Regions from separate parts of the Homo sapiens genome. Here region 2 is linked to region 1. A link means that fine-mapping ties the variant in region 1 to the expression of a gene that starts in the linked region. Tissue or cell type: whole blood. Region 1 holds a variant in brackets; the other region holds the start of a gene. All regions are shown on one strand. Distances are from middle to middle.

Region 1 (8,184 bases):
CCGCCTGCCTTGGCCTCCCAAAGTGCCGAGATTGCAGCCTCTGCCCGGCCGCCACCCCGTCTGGGAAGTGAGGAGTGTCTCTGCCTGGCCGCCCATCGTCTGGGATGTGAGGAGCCCCTCTGCCTGGCTGCCCAGTCTGGAAAGTGAGGAGCATCTCCGCCCGGCCGCCATCCCATCTAGGAAGTGAGGAGCGCCTCTTCCCAGCCGCCATCACATTTAGGAAGTGAGGAGCGTCTCTGCCCGGCCGCCCATCGTCTGAAATGTGGGGAGCGCCTCTGCCCCGCCGCCCCATCTGGGATGTGAGGAGCGCCTCTGCCCGGCCGAGACCCCGTCTGGGAGGTGAGGAGCGTCTCTGCCCGGCCGCCCCGTCTGAGAAGTGAGGAGACCCTCTGCCTGGCAACCGCCCCGTCTGAGAAGTGAGGAGCCCCTCCGCCCGGCAGCTGCCCCGTCTGAGAAGTGAGGAGCCTCTCCGCCCGGCAGCCACCCCATCTGGGAAGTAAGGAGCGTCTCCGCCCGGCAGCCACCCCGGCCGGGAGGGAGGTGGGGGGGTCAGCCCCCCGCCCGGCCAGCCGCCCCGTCCGGGAGGTGAGGGGCGCCTCCGCCCGGCCACCACCCCGTCTGGGAGGTGTGCCCAACAGCTCATTGAGAACGGGCCAGGATGACAATGGCGGCTTTGTGGAATAGAAAGGCGGGAAAGGTGGGGAAAAGATTGAGAAATCGGATGGTTGCCGTGTCTGTGTAGAAAGAAGTAGACATGGGAGACTTTTCATTTTGTTCTGCACTAAGAAAAATTCCTCTGCCTTGGGAATCCTGTTGATCTGTGACCTTACCCCCAACCCTGTGCTCCCTGAAACATGTGCTGTGTCCACTCAGGGTTAAATGGATTAAGGGCGGTGCAAGATGTGCTTTGTTAAACAGATGCTTGAAGGCAGCATGCTCGTTAAGAGTCATCACCAATCCCTAATCTCAAGTAATCAGGGACACAAACACTGCGGAAGGCCGCAGGGTCCTCTGCCTAGGAAAACCAGAGACCTTTGTTCACTTGTTTATCTGCTGACCTTCCCTCCACTATTGTCCCATGACCCTGCCAAATCCCCCTCTGTGAGAAACACCCAAGAATTATCAATAAAAAAATAAATTAAAAAAAAAAAAAAAAAAAAAAGAAAATCAGCTGGAGACCTCAACCTGCATTTTTAAGAGTCTGAGGGTCTTATTGGATTCATGCCTAGAACAGTTAGAGCCTAAAGGTATAAGGCTGTTGTCCATTGGCCACTGAGATGAGTCCTCAAGAAGAGGTAGCTACATTACAAATGGCCCACATTCACAGTTTATGAAAAGAAAGAATGCACAAGTATTTCCTGTACTTTTAATGTGATTCTCATGAAAGAGAATGCCAACCTAAAGCCATCTAAAGGGACTTGCCTATGAGGGCCATGTCAAGAACAATGGAACCCTAAAAGGAGTCTACCAAGAGCCAACAGTGAGGCCAAGCCCTGCCGACAGGAGAGGAAATCGTCTGTATCAGGGAAATCCAGGTGGGAGATGGGTAGCAGAGAGTGGGGGATGCTGAAAAACTCGAAGATTCCCAGGAAGAAGAACGAGCAGTCAGTGTAAACCTAGGCTCAAAGAAACAAGGATCACTGCATTACGAACCCCGAACTCTCTTATCTCCCTCCACTTCCCCCTTCAATCCCAGAAAGGTCAGAATCTGGGAACAGAGCCATGAATAGAGAAAAGTCCAGCCACACCCTGTTCTACTTGCTGGATTCCTACCTGAAACAGGCCTGGGTTAGAGCAGGGGAGAAGCTCTCATCTCCATTAGTAACAGAATTTTGATCAGTACCTAAGACTGAACATTAATTACTGAAATGAGACTGTTTTAGGCCTAGAATTAGCTAGGTCACTCTACTGTTTGAAAGAGACCAAAAAGCTTTAATTTCTTACATCATCCAAAAAGCCTGAGAAAGACTGTTCTCACATAGCCAATCTCAGGGGCCAAGCTAGGAAAGATTAAAGCTGTTTTCTGATTGTACCCTTCGAGTCTGGCTCATTTGCACAAAGGAGGCACTTGAGATTAGCCCTTTTCACGAAATACAGTGGGATGATGATAATATTACTATTACTTCCTCCCATTAAATAATTTCCAAATTAGATTATTTTTACCTATGTTCTTGGTGGGGGGGCAGGGTGTGGGGAGGGAACTTCTCTAAAACTATCACAACCGTAAGTGGCCCCTGACACAAGACATGCTTGTATTAACTAAATCTGTGGACACTGTGTGTCCAACCCTTTAAATTTTCGGCTGCTGATAGAAGAGAAAAAGCAAAGAAAAGATGTGAATGATTCCCATTAGGTGGCATCCCTTCTGAATGATTCAAACACCGGCAAAGGCGGCCCAGACAATTCATCACACTGGCAGCACCTGCTCCAGAGGCCCAGAGGTCTCTATCTGTAGAATAAAAACACAGGTGATGTTTCTCTTATACCCACCACCGGGTTTCCAGCTCACTCTCATCTCCCTCTTGGAACTGACTCTCCACTCCTTTTCTTCAGATTAACATTTAACTGCCATGATTAATATGCTTGTGCCAGCATTTACTCCCATCCTGACTAGTGCTATGACAGGGCATATGCAGCGCCCCAGGTAAGCTTTTTCAGAGTCAATCATCTAAGAGGCTCTAAATTATTTGGCAATTAAGCCATCACTGTGTTCCCATAGAACTCTGGCATTACAGGTTTGCTACTTGCAGAAAATCAGAAAAAAAAAAAAATACACACACACACACACACACACACACACACACAATTAAATGCATTCCACCCAAGCAGCACAATGACCAAACAAACTACAATGGACATTCACAGACAGACATATGCAAGCTGCTTACAGGATCCATAGGTGGCCCCGCCCTCCCTCATTCCGGCAGCGGCTGTGCTTGCTTACCTAGCCGTCTGGGCACCAGGTGAACCGGTTTAGCTCTGTTCTGCTCCTTCCACTTCTCCAGGTTGGCCAGCTCCTGCTCCGCAACTAAGCCAGGCGAGAAATATCAAATCGTCAATTATTAGACTTCTAAAAGAAAACCAGTCCCTTCAAAGCATAAGAAACAACTATTAGAAGGCAATTAACTATATGTGAGCATGAGTGAACAAGGCTTCCAGGTTAGAAACACAATATTCAGCCCTGACCCGTACAGGTCATCCTGGGCCCGGCCCTGTGGCACATTCTCACCAAGAGTCAGCACAGAGGGTTCGAATTTGAAAAACCACCTGGGCTCCTACTAAAAGAAGTATAGATTTTCCTACCATTCTGGCATTTTTAAAACTCTATATCAAGTTAATTTTTAAAGTTACCTATAGAAAATGTGTGCAAAACTAGAATATTTTCACGTCAATAAGAACTTTCCACACATAGGTAAACATATCCCCAGAGAATTCTGATGCCCATACTCGCTTTATCTTCAATGCTCCCAAGCTTACTGCGACTCTAGGGAATGAGGGCTCGGTGCTACAGGTGGAGACCCTTGCTCTGGTTTCAGGCACTCCAGACCACTGTGCAGAGTCGGCTTCCTGGGGAGCAGGGCTCATTTCCTAAATGTTCACTCTGCACGACAGCAGGGGGCGCCAGAGAGAAATTAGTTCTGTCACTCCAGCGCCTCCCCTTATCTCCTCATGAGACCTGTTTCAAATGTCCATTACTAGAAAAACAAATTCTGAAACATTTCGAAATCCAGACCACATTGAGACTTAATCTCCTATTAAGTATTTAAATCAAAAGCTTGTAAGATACCAGAACTGCTGGCAGTTCCCATAGTCCCTGCATGGCTGTGATTGTCATATTCTGCACTGACCCGCTGTCCCACCCGGAGCTACATGTCCGGTGGAGACTCTTTAGAGAGCTTTTTCCCTTTTGTGCCTTTCTGTCCATCATTAGTCATGAAGTTAAATTTCCTACCAATCATGTAATAAAGGAGACCATCGAATTTCAGCATAGCCCCACAGCTGGACTTGAGCAAGCCTACAATTTCTTTGTGAACTAAATGAACTTTAGTTCTCTTCCACCTCTAAAGGATAATGCTATAACTTTAAATGGCAGCATTTATATTTACTGTACATCAATTAAACATGTTATGTACGCATTAAGTACAGAGAGCACAAAAACGAGTAAGATGTGGTCCCTACCCTCAAGGAGGTTTATTGGCAATAAGTGTAAAGTTGTTCAAGCCAACAGAAATCCAGGATCTACCATCATGTCATGAGTTCTGTTACTAACGTAGAGAAACAAACTTAGAAGTGTTAATAGTAGAATATTTTTAAAGGTATAATCAAAACTAAAAAAAACAAAAAACCTTGATGAGATTTGGTGAGTCTATATAAATGAGAAAATAAAAATACTTCACACCAAAACAAACCAATTGTAAAAAGAGAGAAGCATTCTGAATGTTAAATGAATGACTATACATACTTC[T/C]TTGTATCTCATTTCTCCGGTTTATATTTGGTGCTATCAAGGTGTATGCACTTGTGCTAAAAGGAAGAGAAAAAAAAATGCTTATTACCATGAGAAACTACCAATGCATATAAGCCACCAGATATTTTTCCTTCTATTATACTGTATTTATGATCATTACCATCAAATAGGCACTATGAAAGATAATCTTCTTAAGACCCTGATCTGTTCTCTGGGACCTCACAATCTTGATGTCAAAGTAAAACAAAGGACATGGCCAAATATGAAAATATAAAGCATTCGATGAGTGACAAGTGACTAGTTGGTGTACTGTCCTTGTAGGGCTCCACCGTTCCTCTAGGTGGTGCTTGTGAGTAAATTCCTTTAAGATGGCTTTAGATTGGCATTCTCTTCTGTGTGACCACACCGGGGTACAGGAAACATTGGTACATTTTCTGTTCCCACAGACTGATCCTAGAGGCCATTTGCAATGCAGCCACCTCCTCTTGATGATCTGAGTAACTAACTGGCTTTTAGGCTTTGACTTTTCTAGGCCTATGTCCACTGGTCTCTTCTTCTCCTAGGGACACAGGTTGAGCATAATCAGGGGCTCGGAGAAGCAAGGAGTCATTTCAACCAGGCGGATCAGGGAAGACTTTTTAAGAAAAATATTCACCTCTGTGACACTAGGAAGCTGTTAAAATATTGTGAGCTTTTGAGGGCAGAGAGTGTGCTTGATTGATGTGTATTCCAAGCCCCTGGCACAGTGTCTGGCACAAAGACATTGGCTGCTTGATAAATGTGGGCTGAATTAAAACAAAATGATGCTACAGACCCAGCCTGTGAGTCTGTGTGGGGGTGGCTCTTTTTTGAGATGATGCACGTGATCCCACAAGAACATGAATACTCCATTAAGCAATAATATAGCACAGCAACAGACTGCAGCATACATGTAGGTACAGTTTTAAGAGAAATGCTGTGGATAAACACAACCAGCTTCTAACTGTAGGATTTAAGAGGGAGGGAAAAAACCCCACCCAGATACTCTTGGAAGTCTCTCTCTTCTACCTGAATACACAATTTCAAAGGGCAAATTAGCAAAGATTGAACTGTAGAGGCCAAAAGCACTGATCAACAGAAGCCATTTCCTTCCTTATCTCATTATTTTTCTAGCAGCTAGCCTTCAGCCAGCTTCAAACTGGGCTTTAATTTTAGACTTGTAAATGTGAGGTGTGCAACAGCCTTTGCATGCAAATGGGGCTGCTGGATGCCCAATTACTTAATGTATATCAGCAGACGTTGCATGTGTAGCCTAGCATGCATACAACGTTATGAATACAAAATTAGGAGACTGCCACTGGCAATTAATCCCTTGTCCATTGCACATTCTTTGTACACCCTAAGAAACATTTTTCACTTCTGAATTGCCAGTACTTTTTAGGAGCTTGGAAGCTACAATCCCGTGGGTAGTCCCTGGAAACTTGAATATGATGCAATGGTGAGCCATGCTACAGAGACTGAAAGCTGAAACATCAGATACGAGACGTAAATGCCAATCATGAAATTGCTACACAATCTTCAATGTCTGCTAACATTGTGGTATAGAGCTTCTCTCTATACCACAAATTTGACTATACTCCAGATCAGTAGTTCTCAGCCTTTATCGTGCATCATAATCACCAGGAGGGCTTGTCCGCGAGCTTGAGAGTTTCTAATTCAGTAGCCTGCGACTGGGTCAAATAACTTACATTTTTAACAAGTTCCAAGATGATGCTGTTCTTGATCTAGGTACCACACTTGGAAAACCACTACTATAGAGCAATCAAGCTATCTTAGAACATTTGGGATAAAAGAAAACTTAGGTATTCATAAATCACTGGTAAAGACACAGAGGTTGAATCTCAGGCCAAAGATCACCAGGTCAATTGAGCAACACTGATGAGACTCCAGTCTAAGACTTTTGACTTAGATCAGTTTTCTGTCTGCAGCTAACTTTTCAACTCAATGTGCAAAGCATAAAATATGACCATCCTTTAACTTTAGTCCCTTGATAGACTTCCAAACAATGCAACCTACTTAACTGGGCACTTATTATGGATTTATTGTATTAGGGGCTTGTAGAGAGTGAGGGGAGATTCCAGAACAGGGATACTAATCACTTTAACAGAACTTACACTTTAGTTAGGAACAAGTCAAGAAACCACAAAAGCACCCCACGAGAATATCCAACCACTCAACATGAGTTCTGGATGGGGAAAAAAACAAAAATAAATAAATAAAAAATAAATTAAAAAAGAATACCCAAACAAGTCTTAAAGTGGGAATGATGTAAGTACTCAGAGATCCAAAACAGTGGAGATTCATAGAGACCTCAGAAGAGTAAAAAACTGAATAGCACGAAATAAGAATAGTAAGTTGAGGCTTAAAGAATAGGATCTGAAATAGCAAAAGTGTTTCTTTGCCAGGACTTTGCCAAAAGCAGCTTCACAGAGAATTTTCCAAGTCCATGAGTCTCTCTTACGGAAATTTTGCAAAAGGTTTGGAGAGAAAAATCAACTCATTTGTAAAAGATTGTATTCTACAATATCTAATCTGGTTAAGTTTTTAAGTCCGACATCATACTAGAATCTTCCATCTTAAGAATAGGACTTCAGTCAATCTATGGCCAATGTGTGTAGCTTACAGGTACCTAATAGAGAAACATAAAATAAAGGGAAAGAATTAGCTCTGAATTTAGAGGGTTTTTACTGAAAGCATTTTAGCATAAACCCAGGCAGTGGTCCCAGTAATAAACGTTTTATGTAAATTTTATGTGAATTGCTCAGCAACCTTCTCAGCAATATTTTATTGACTGAAAATGCCAAATCTGAAACATGTTATAATAGTCCCAAGAAAGCATTGCCAAGTAAATGGTAAGGAACTTAGCTTCTATTTCTATTTCTTAATATAAGAAGAAGAGCTTAAGTCAAAGGATATGCTTTTTATTTTTTAATATCATGTGTCAGAGTGTAATGCCTTAGTAGATACAAATATTCATCCCTTCTTTCTTAGCTTTCTCTTGACATGAAGAGCAAGTATAATTTATTAATGTTTTCAGCCAATTAGTTTGTACCCACAGCAAAGGCCTTTGCTGTTTTAACCTATGTGCTATCTCTTCCAACAGCCTGACTCTCAAAGTTGCTAATCTAGACAAGCCCAACAACCAACATTTCGCATTCTTGTCATTTCCTGATTAAGCAACATTCAAGCCACTGAAATAAATATATATATTTGAAAATGAGTCTCCTTAATTACCTCATTGAAATTTAATGAAAGATCTCAATTTGTAAGATTATTTTCACTTTCCAACAGCGCACATCCGTGAGATATACTGAGGGAGAATATATGAAAGAACAGACAAGATAAAATGTTTTTCTGCACCATAAGAAACATAAAATAAAAAGATATTCAAGAAATGTTTGGCCAAGCGCGGTGGCTCATGCCTGTAATCTCAGCACTTTGGGGGGCTGAGGCGGGTGGATCACTTGAGGTCAGGAGTTCAAGACCAGCCTGGCCAACATGGTAAAACCCTGTCTCTACTAAAAATACAAAAATTAGCCGGGTGTGATAGCACACGCCTGTAATCCCAGCTACTCGGGATGCTGAGGCAGGAGAATCGCTTGATCCCAGGGGGCAGAGGTTGCAGTGAGCTGCGATCATGCCACTGCACTCCAGCCTGGCCGATAACAGTGAAACTCTGT
Region 2 (8,184 bases), 22 kb after region 1:
GCCAGGCGCGGTGGCTCACGCCTGTAATCCCAGCACTTTGGGAGGCCGAGGCAGGCAGATCACAAGGTCAGGAGTTTGAGACCGGCCTGGCCAATGTGGCGAAACCCCGTCTCTACTAAAAATACGAAAATTAGCCAGGCATGGTGGCATGTGCCTGTGGTACCAGCTGCTCAGGAGGCTGAGGCAGAGGAGTCGCTTGAACACGGGAGGCAGAGGTTGTGGTGAGCTGAGATTGCGCTGTTGCACTCCAGCCTGAGCGACAGAGCGAGACTCTGTCTCAAAAAAAAAAAAAAAGAACTCAATCTTGTCTGAGAGTCTATCAGAGGTACTCAGAATAATTTAATATATTGATAGCCACAGATTTTTACTAGTATACTTTCTTTCTATGCAAATAGGTGGTTTATTTATTTATTTATTTATTTATTTGAGACAGGGTCTCACTCTGTTGCCCAGGCTGGAGTACAGTGGTACAATCACAGCTCACTGTAGTCTTGGAGCTCCTGAGCTCAAGCTATCCTCCTGCCTCAGCCTCTTGAGTAGCTGGGACAGAGGTATGTGCCACCGTGCCCAGATAATTTAAATTTTTTTTTTTTTTTTTTTTTTTTTGGAGAGACAAGGGACTCCCTATGTTACTCCTGGACTAAAGCAATCCTCCCACATTGGCTTTCCAAAGTGCTGAGGTTACAGGCACAAGCCCCTGCGCCCGACCACAAGTAGGTGTTTTAAACCAGTGTTTTTTTTTAACAAGGCACAAACATTCGACTTAAGGGTGACAGCATAGTACTTTACCAGGAATAAAGTTATGTTTTACACATATACACGTGGAAAAATTAAAACCCTATGAAGTTGGTATTGTCTTATATTAAGTAATGAGGAAACTGAGGCATAAAGTAGCTAAGGATTTTGTTCAAAGAGCAAGTGATGGCATAATCAGAACTTGAACCCAGGTCTACCCAGCATCAGAGCCCATATTCCTAATCCCCACACTGGGGCTGCAGGAGGAAATTAATGGAAGGATTCCCACAAAACAAGACAAATCTTTTACCATATAAATAAATTCACATTATGAGTGGACAAATGAAACTGTACTATTAAAGCACTTTATCCTCTTTTTTCTTTTTTTTTTTTTTTTGCTTTTTGTTTTGTTTTGTTTTGTTTTTGAGACAGAGTCTCACTCTGTCGCCCAGGCTGGAGTGTAGTGGCGCGATCTCGGCTCACTGCAAGCTCTGCCTCCCGGGTTCACGCCATTCTCCTGCCTCAGCCTCCCAAGTAGCTGGGACTACAGGCGCCTGCCACCATGCCCAGCTAATTTTTTGTATTTTTAGTAGAGACGGGGTTTCACTGTGTTAGCCAGGATGGTCTCCATCTCCTGACCTCGTGATCCGCCCTCCTCGGCCTCCCAAAGTGCTGGGATTACAGGCGTGAGACACCATGCCCGGCCTCTTCATTTTTTTAAATCAGAAAGTGTTTCTAATTTTTATCCCCAAAATAAATAAAGCCTTCTTTATTTTGGGGCAGCGGGTAGGCAGCTAATTCTACTGAGATATTTGCCATTCATTTTCCTTGGTTTTCCAACTTCATTAAAGGAAACAAGTGAGAAAGTGAATCTAAGTAACTAATGGAGATGCAACAAAAATTCAAAGTCATCCCAACAGGATCTCAGACATCAAACCCCTAAAAGGGAATATATAATTCTGTACTTACTGCAACTGGTTCACATGAGGAAAAAAAAAAAAAAAAAGGAAGACTCTGTGAGAGATAACTAAACACTTCCTGGTATTTTTTTAATGGTTCATTTGAAAATCTTTTCAGGAATCGCAAAATAGTGTACAGTGAGCTCTTCAGGGTATTAAGGCCTGGATAACCCATCAGAAAGCTGCCTCTTTCTGAGCAATTTGATCTGGCAAGATTCCAGGGTAATTACAACCAAATAAGAAAACAGATGCAACAGTTAATACTTATGCGATGATATGAGCTTAGAAATAAATGGTTGTATCTAAATAAATGCTTTTTAACAGAAAAAAGTCATGCAAATCATGTTCATCGTTAACTATTCATGGACACGAGACCATATGTCTGTGACCTTTGTTACTGTTAAGTACTATAGCTTGTAGATACGTGGGTTACTTGAAAGTAATTGGCTGCTTCTACTGTGGCGAGACACTAATTATTCTGAGGAGGAAAGAAATGCAACAATCTCTAATTGATTTCCAGATTATCCACCCCATCTAAGGGTAAACCTAAGCTAAATAATAATATTAAAGGCCTGGTACTTTCCAAAAGCTAAGGGATGAAAGAAAATCTACTGTTTATCGGCCATAAGGTTATATACTGTTTCTTAGCAACCAGGGTTTGTCTTTCAGAGACTAGAAGTCGATGAAAAAGGAGAGACTAAAAATAAAACCATCTGGACAGTTCCAATTCACAGAGGCAGCACTTCAAAGGCAGTGATGTTGTGATAAACCATACTGTTGAGTTAAAGTTCATTCCATTGGCTAGAAAGAGAGGCTCATGACACTTGCTTAATAAATGTTTCCCGGATACTCACTGCAGTCCCTGAACCAAAGACCAGGAATAAAAGCTACCTATCTGTTCCTGCATAGAGCACATATCAACATCAGGGATGAGAGGTACTATGGTCACTCACCTCCTCACTCTCTCAGCTCCACTCCTCTGGTTGTAAGAGGCTAGTTTATCTGCGAGTCTTGCTGGGACGTAGGCTTGCTCCTACCTAGAGGCAGAATTTGAACCTTCTACCCCATATCACATTTCTTGTTGACCCTTACCTGTTAGTGTCTGATACAGTAATTCCGTTTAGGACACCAAGTTTTGTTTTTCTGTTTTGTTTTGTTTTGAGACAGTCTCGCTCTGTTGCCCAGGCTGGAGTGCAATGGCGCAATTTCCGCTCACTGCAACCTCCGCCTCCCGGGTTCAAGCGATTCTCCTACCTCAGCCTCCCAGGTAGCTGGGACTACAGGCACGTGCCATCACACCCAGCTTATTTTTTATTTTTAGTAAAGACTGGGTTTCACCATGTTGGCCAGGCTGGTTTCGAACTCCTGACCTCAGGTGATCTGCCTGCCTTGGCCTCCCAAAGTGCTGGGATAACAGGCTTGAGCCAACGCGCCTGGCCCAGCACCAAATTTTTAAAAACAGTAAGGGAAAAGTTATTTCCATACTGGTTGGAGTATGAGTTCTGGAGATACCTGGAAAATGACATCTTACTGGATGCCTAGGCAGTTCCGACACACCCATATCTTTCAATCCTGTAGCCAGTCACAAAAATCAGGAAAGTAGTATTCCTGGAAGGAACCGGGCTGGTTATTTACCAAAGGACTGCAAACTAGCCGACTCAATTTATAAGGTGCGGCATGGATACTTTCATTTAAGCAAATGAGCTTTCATTCAGTCAAAATCCCTGTTGTTGGGCCCCTGTGGTTTTAAACTCCAAGGACCAAGGTGCTTGTGAGTGAGTATGTTTGGGGCCCGGGCTCCCGCCCCGAAGCCAGGTTGTTAAAATACTCACCGCCTCTGGCCCGCGTGCACGACGCTCTCCCGCGAAGGGCCCTTAGGGGCTGCCTCCAAACCCTCTCTCTGGTCTTCCACGGGGCTCAGCTCCCCTTGCCGCCCAGAAGGGTCCTGGGGATCCCGGGTCGGGCGGGAGGCAGGGGAGGCGCCGAGCCCGGAGTTCACCACTCTATTGCGGGTGTTCATGGTTCACAGCCCGCGGGTCCCGGGCCGCCGTCGCTGCGGGAGGGATGCGGCTGGGACGCTTAGCGAGTCTCAAGATGGGATTCCAAAGTGCAGAGGCAGCGGTTTTAACAGCTGAGTTTCGGTTTCTCAGAATCAGCAGCAGACTGCGCCCGCCCCAGAGAACTTCCCCACGTATTCTCCACTGAGGCCCCGTCCGACCTTATCGCGGGTTAACAGCCCAGGATGTTGACTTGAGCTGGCTTGGTCGGCTACAGGTGAGACGGTTTAAAGTCTCACAATCACCTTAGAGGTTAATCAGAATAACTGGGATCAGCCACGGACACCTGGTGAGCGATTAGCCCGCAGAGTGACTACAATCCTGAAAGATACTTGAGAAACTGTTTAACAGGCAACTCTAATTTGAGGTTACCGCTGGATATTTGAGACTGTAAAAAATATATTAACCTTAAAATACCAGAGATTAGGTCAATAACTAAAATCATCTCAACAAAATGTCGCCTTTTATCAGTAATGACTGCTGTGTGGCTGTTACCAATGCACATACTTTCAAGTTAGAGGAAATGGAAACTGAAATCAAAAGAAAACAAAAACCTACAAAGCCGGAGAAGTAAGCTAAGGTAGACATGATTCTCCAGGCAGCCTTGCTAAGTAATTGACTAGACATTCGAGAACTATTAAAAATACCTGCTCTGTGCAGAACAGTGTGCAACGGTGATGTGGGGACATTTTAAAATATGGATGTGTAAGGCTCAGTTCCTGTAGGTTCAGGGGTGAGCTCTGGCATTCATATTTTTGAAAAGCTCCCAGATGATTCTGATGTGTGCCAGGGTTGGTCACCAGGGTCACAATGCCGTCTACACAAAGATGAGTGAAGGCTCTTCCCTCATGCTACCTGCATTCTAGGAGTATCCTAGTAGACAGGTAAACAAATGGGAATGCCACTTTGGGATAAATGAAATGACAGGCAGCTGTGGAGGCACAGAGAAACTGGGGATTAGCCCTCTGAGTAATTCAGGAACAGGGACATTTGAGAATGAGCCACCAAAGACATAGGAATTCACCAAGAAGAAGGAGATGCTATGGCAGAGGCTTGTCACTTAAAATGACATGGTGTGTACTTAATTCCAGGGGTTGTCATGTGGCTGGAGCACCCCAGTCCTAGGTCAGCAAGACAGTTAGGAGCTGGACTGTCTTCCTTATATTATTGGTGCTTAGAACAAAAAGACACATACAGGTTTGATAGCTAATGAAAGAATGAAATTGAAGGGTGGGCCAGGGTGGGACAGGAGAGGAGAAAATAATGACAAGGAACATGGTAGGAAAGTCAGTCAGGATTTCTATGCCATCCTAAGACATTAGGGTTTTGTAGAGTAGGCCAGAGTTTCACAAATTTCAGTAAGCATCAGAACCACTTGGAGGAGGGTGCGTTAAAACAGATTTATGGCCAGGCACGGTGGCTCACTCCTGTAATTCCAGTACTTTTGGAGGCCGAGGCAGGAGGATTACCTGGAGATCAGGAGTTGAAGACCAGCCTAGCCAACGTGGCGAAACCCCACCTCCACCTGGGCGACAGAGAGAGACTCCATCTCAAAAATATATATATATAGTTTCTGATTCAGGTCTGGGATGGGGCCCAAGGATTTGCATTTCTAACAAATTTCCAGGTGATACCAATGATGCCAGTCTCAGGATCACCCTTTGGGAACCACTGTTGTAGGCAATGTGGAAGGCACAGGAAGTTTTTCAATAGGGCAGTTACTCAATAATATCTGTTTTACAAAGTTAGCTTCTAACAATGTGAAAACGGAGATTGAAAGATGAAGAGACTGAAATCGGGAAGATAAATTCAGAGCCTAGTTACGTCTAGGTAAGAAATACAGATCTGAGCTAAGGCAACCCAGAAAGTGGGGAGCAAAATCAAGACATTTCACATGGGCCAGGCTCAGTTGCTCATGCCTGTAATCCCAGCACTTTTGGAGGCTGAGGCAGGAGGATCACCTGAGGCCAGGAGTTTAAGGCCAGCCTGGGCAGCATGGTAAGACCTCATCTCTACAAAACAAATAAATAAAACATAAAAGACATTTCACATGAGAGATTAGCATAGATAAAAACTAGATGAAAGAGAGAATTGAGTACTGGAAGGCAGCAGAGAGAAGGGGAGATGGCTTTTATAGTGCTTTGAGACCAGCTTTGCCACATACTGGCCACACAACCAAGGCCAAATCTCTTAATTCCTCAGAGATCCAGTTTCCTCCTCTGCCTCATGTGGGTATTGTGAGGAATAGAGATCATCCACATCAGTGGTTCTCAAATGGAGTTGATTTTTCCTCTAGCAGACATCTGGCAATGCCTGGACATATTTTTGATTGTGAAGCCTCAAAGTGGGTAGGTGCTGCTAGCATCTAGTGTGTAAAGGCCGGGGATGCTCCTAAACATCCTACAATGCACAGAATAGGCCCACATGACAAAGAGTTGTCCTGCCCCACGTGTCAACAGTGTTGAAGTTGAAAAATCCTGATCTTCACAGTATGCCTACCTTATAGCCCCAGTAATTTAATGGTTGCTGTCTTTATGGTGACTTTTAGCTTTGTGACTGGATACGAGGTAGAACCATTAACCTAGAGGAGGGACAAGCTTTGAGGGAAGTTCTAAAAGTCTGTTTAGGTGCTGTTGGGTGTAAGGTACCAGCGGGGTGAGAAACGCAGACCTAGAGATCAACAAAAAAGAGGAACAGCAGGGCCTTTCTGGAGGCCATCTTCCACATTGTTCTTTACTAGGAAAATACCCCTGGAACTCTTGTTTCAAAGGAGAAAATTATTTTGGTGGTTGGATGAAATTTAAAGTTTGAGGAAGGGAAAACCCACACTGGGGGAAAACTGATTCTCCTAAAGGAGCTAGTAATAGGGATGTTGGCCTCAAGAATATACTTAGTTAACCATATTTGTTTCACAACACAACCACATGTCACACCAAAGTTTCAAACCTGAGATTTCTCACTCCATTCACTTCTTGTTTTACCTGAGATTTCTCACTCCATTCACTTCTTGTTTTGCCACATTCTCAAAGTGTTTTAAAAAATGTGAATGTGAGGCTGGATGCGGTGGCTCACACCTGTAATCCCAGCACTTTGGGAGGCCGAGGCAGGCGGATCACGAGGTCAGGAGATCGAGACCATCCTGGCTAATACGGTGAAACCCTGTCTCTACTAAAAATACAAAAAATTAGCCGGGCGTGGTGGTGGGCGCCTGTAGTTCCAGCTATTCCGAAGGCTGAGGCAGGAGAATGGCGTGAACCCGGGAGGCGGAGCTTGCAGTGAGCCGAAATCATGCCACTGCACTCCGGCCTGGGTGACAGAGCGAGACTCCGTCTCAACAACAACAACAAAAAAAAGTGAATGTGATTTATTATGGCAACAGACATCTACAGGCTCCTTTTGGATGCCCGAGAATGGGCTACTTGTGTATCATCCATTCTTTCACCGTAGGTGTGTGCATTTGGGCGAAAATAAGGGCTGGCCTTTTACTGGAGTTGTTCTTGGGTGCGTTTTTCTATAGTAGTGGCTGGTGGAGAGAAGCAGAGGTGAGTGGGGAGGGTCCTGGGCCCCTATCCCTATTTAGCCAAGTACTTTAGCCCCTTATCTCTTCTACTCACTAGGCCACTGCCTAATTTTGTTTGAGGCAAGAATTCAATGGCTTTTAAAAGTTTGAAAAACCACCATACTAGACAATTACCTAGGAATATGTTTTAAGAGACATGAGAAAGAAGTGAAATCTAGTGGGATTGTTACCTTACCTGAAATTTGGCCAATTAGAGATTCATTTAGGAAATGTTTTTCTTTTCAAATGAAACTGCCTCTGGGAAATAATCATGTATTCGTTCCTTTTGGTAAATGAGTTTAATCTGAGCAAAAGACATTTTGGCTGGGGAAGAGGAGAACTGAGTGAAAAGAAAAAGGATTCCAAAAGTTGTGTAAAGAAAAACATAAAATGAGGCATTGTTGGGGAATGGAAATTCAGAAATACAATGAGCAATTTTAGCCAGCCCTATGAGCTTTAAGAGAGAAGATTAAATCAAAAAGAAACTTTACCAATTTATTTTACTGCAAACATGTCTAAGTGTGTCTTCTTTCAAGAAAATAAATGGGAATATATGTCTGATTTTTAAATTAATTGCCTTAGATTACTCCTGCATTAATATGTACAAATATAGAGAGAGATACATAAACTCTAAGACTTTTCTTGTCATAAAATGTGTAAATGAAAAAAATCTTAGTTTTTGAAAATTCTAAAAAGTCACATTTCCTTAAATTTGATTCTTCAGTGGAAAGTTAGATTAATCTAAGAGATTTAGGACAGCAGTTATCTAAAGGTTTTTTTTTTCTCTTCTAACAAAGGAGTTATGTAAAACTCTGAATATTTGGTATCTCCTCATTTTTAGTGTGTGTGTGTATGTATGTGTTTGAGCATACCT

What was found. PIP is the estimated chance that this variant, and not a neighbour inherited with it, causes the effect.
Region 2: EPSTI1 starts here. The variant in region 1 is fine-mapped to the expression of EPSTI1 in whole blood (TOPMed, PIP above 0.99).

What each region holds. Positions count from the first base shown.
Region 1 is chr13:42,966,150-42,974,333 of GRCh38, forward strand. It overlaps EPSTI1 (epithelial stromal interaction 1), which reads right to left. Exons shown (of 11, transcript NM_033255.5): 2 at 4,463-4,521; 3 at 2,945-3,028. Among named protein-coding and RNA genes, the nearest start is that of EPSTI1, 22 kb to the right of the region's middle. The variant T/C (reference allele first, on the strand shown) is at 4,466.
Region 2 is chr13:42,988,452-42,996,635 of GRCh38, forward strand. It overlaps EPSTI1 (epithelial stromal interaction 1), which reads right to left and starts at 3,790. Exons shown (of 11, transcript NM_033255.5): 1 at 3,527-3,790. The coding sequence starts at 3,714. RefSeq lists enhancers at 3,804-3,923, 4,184-4,423.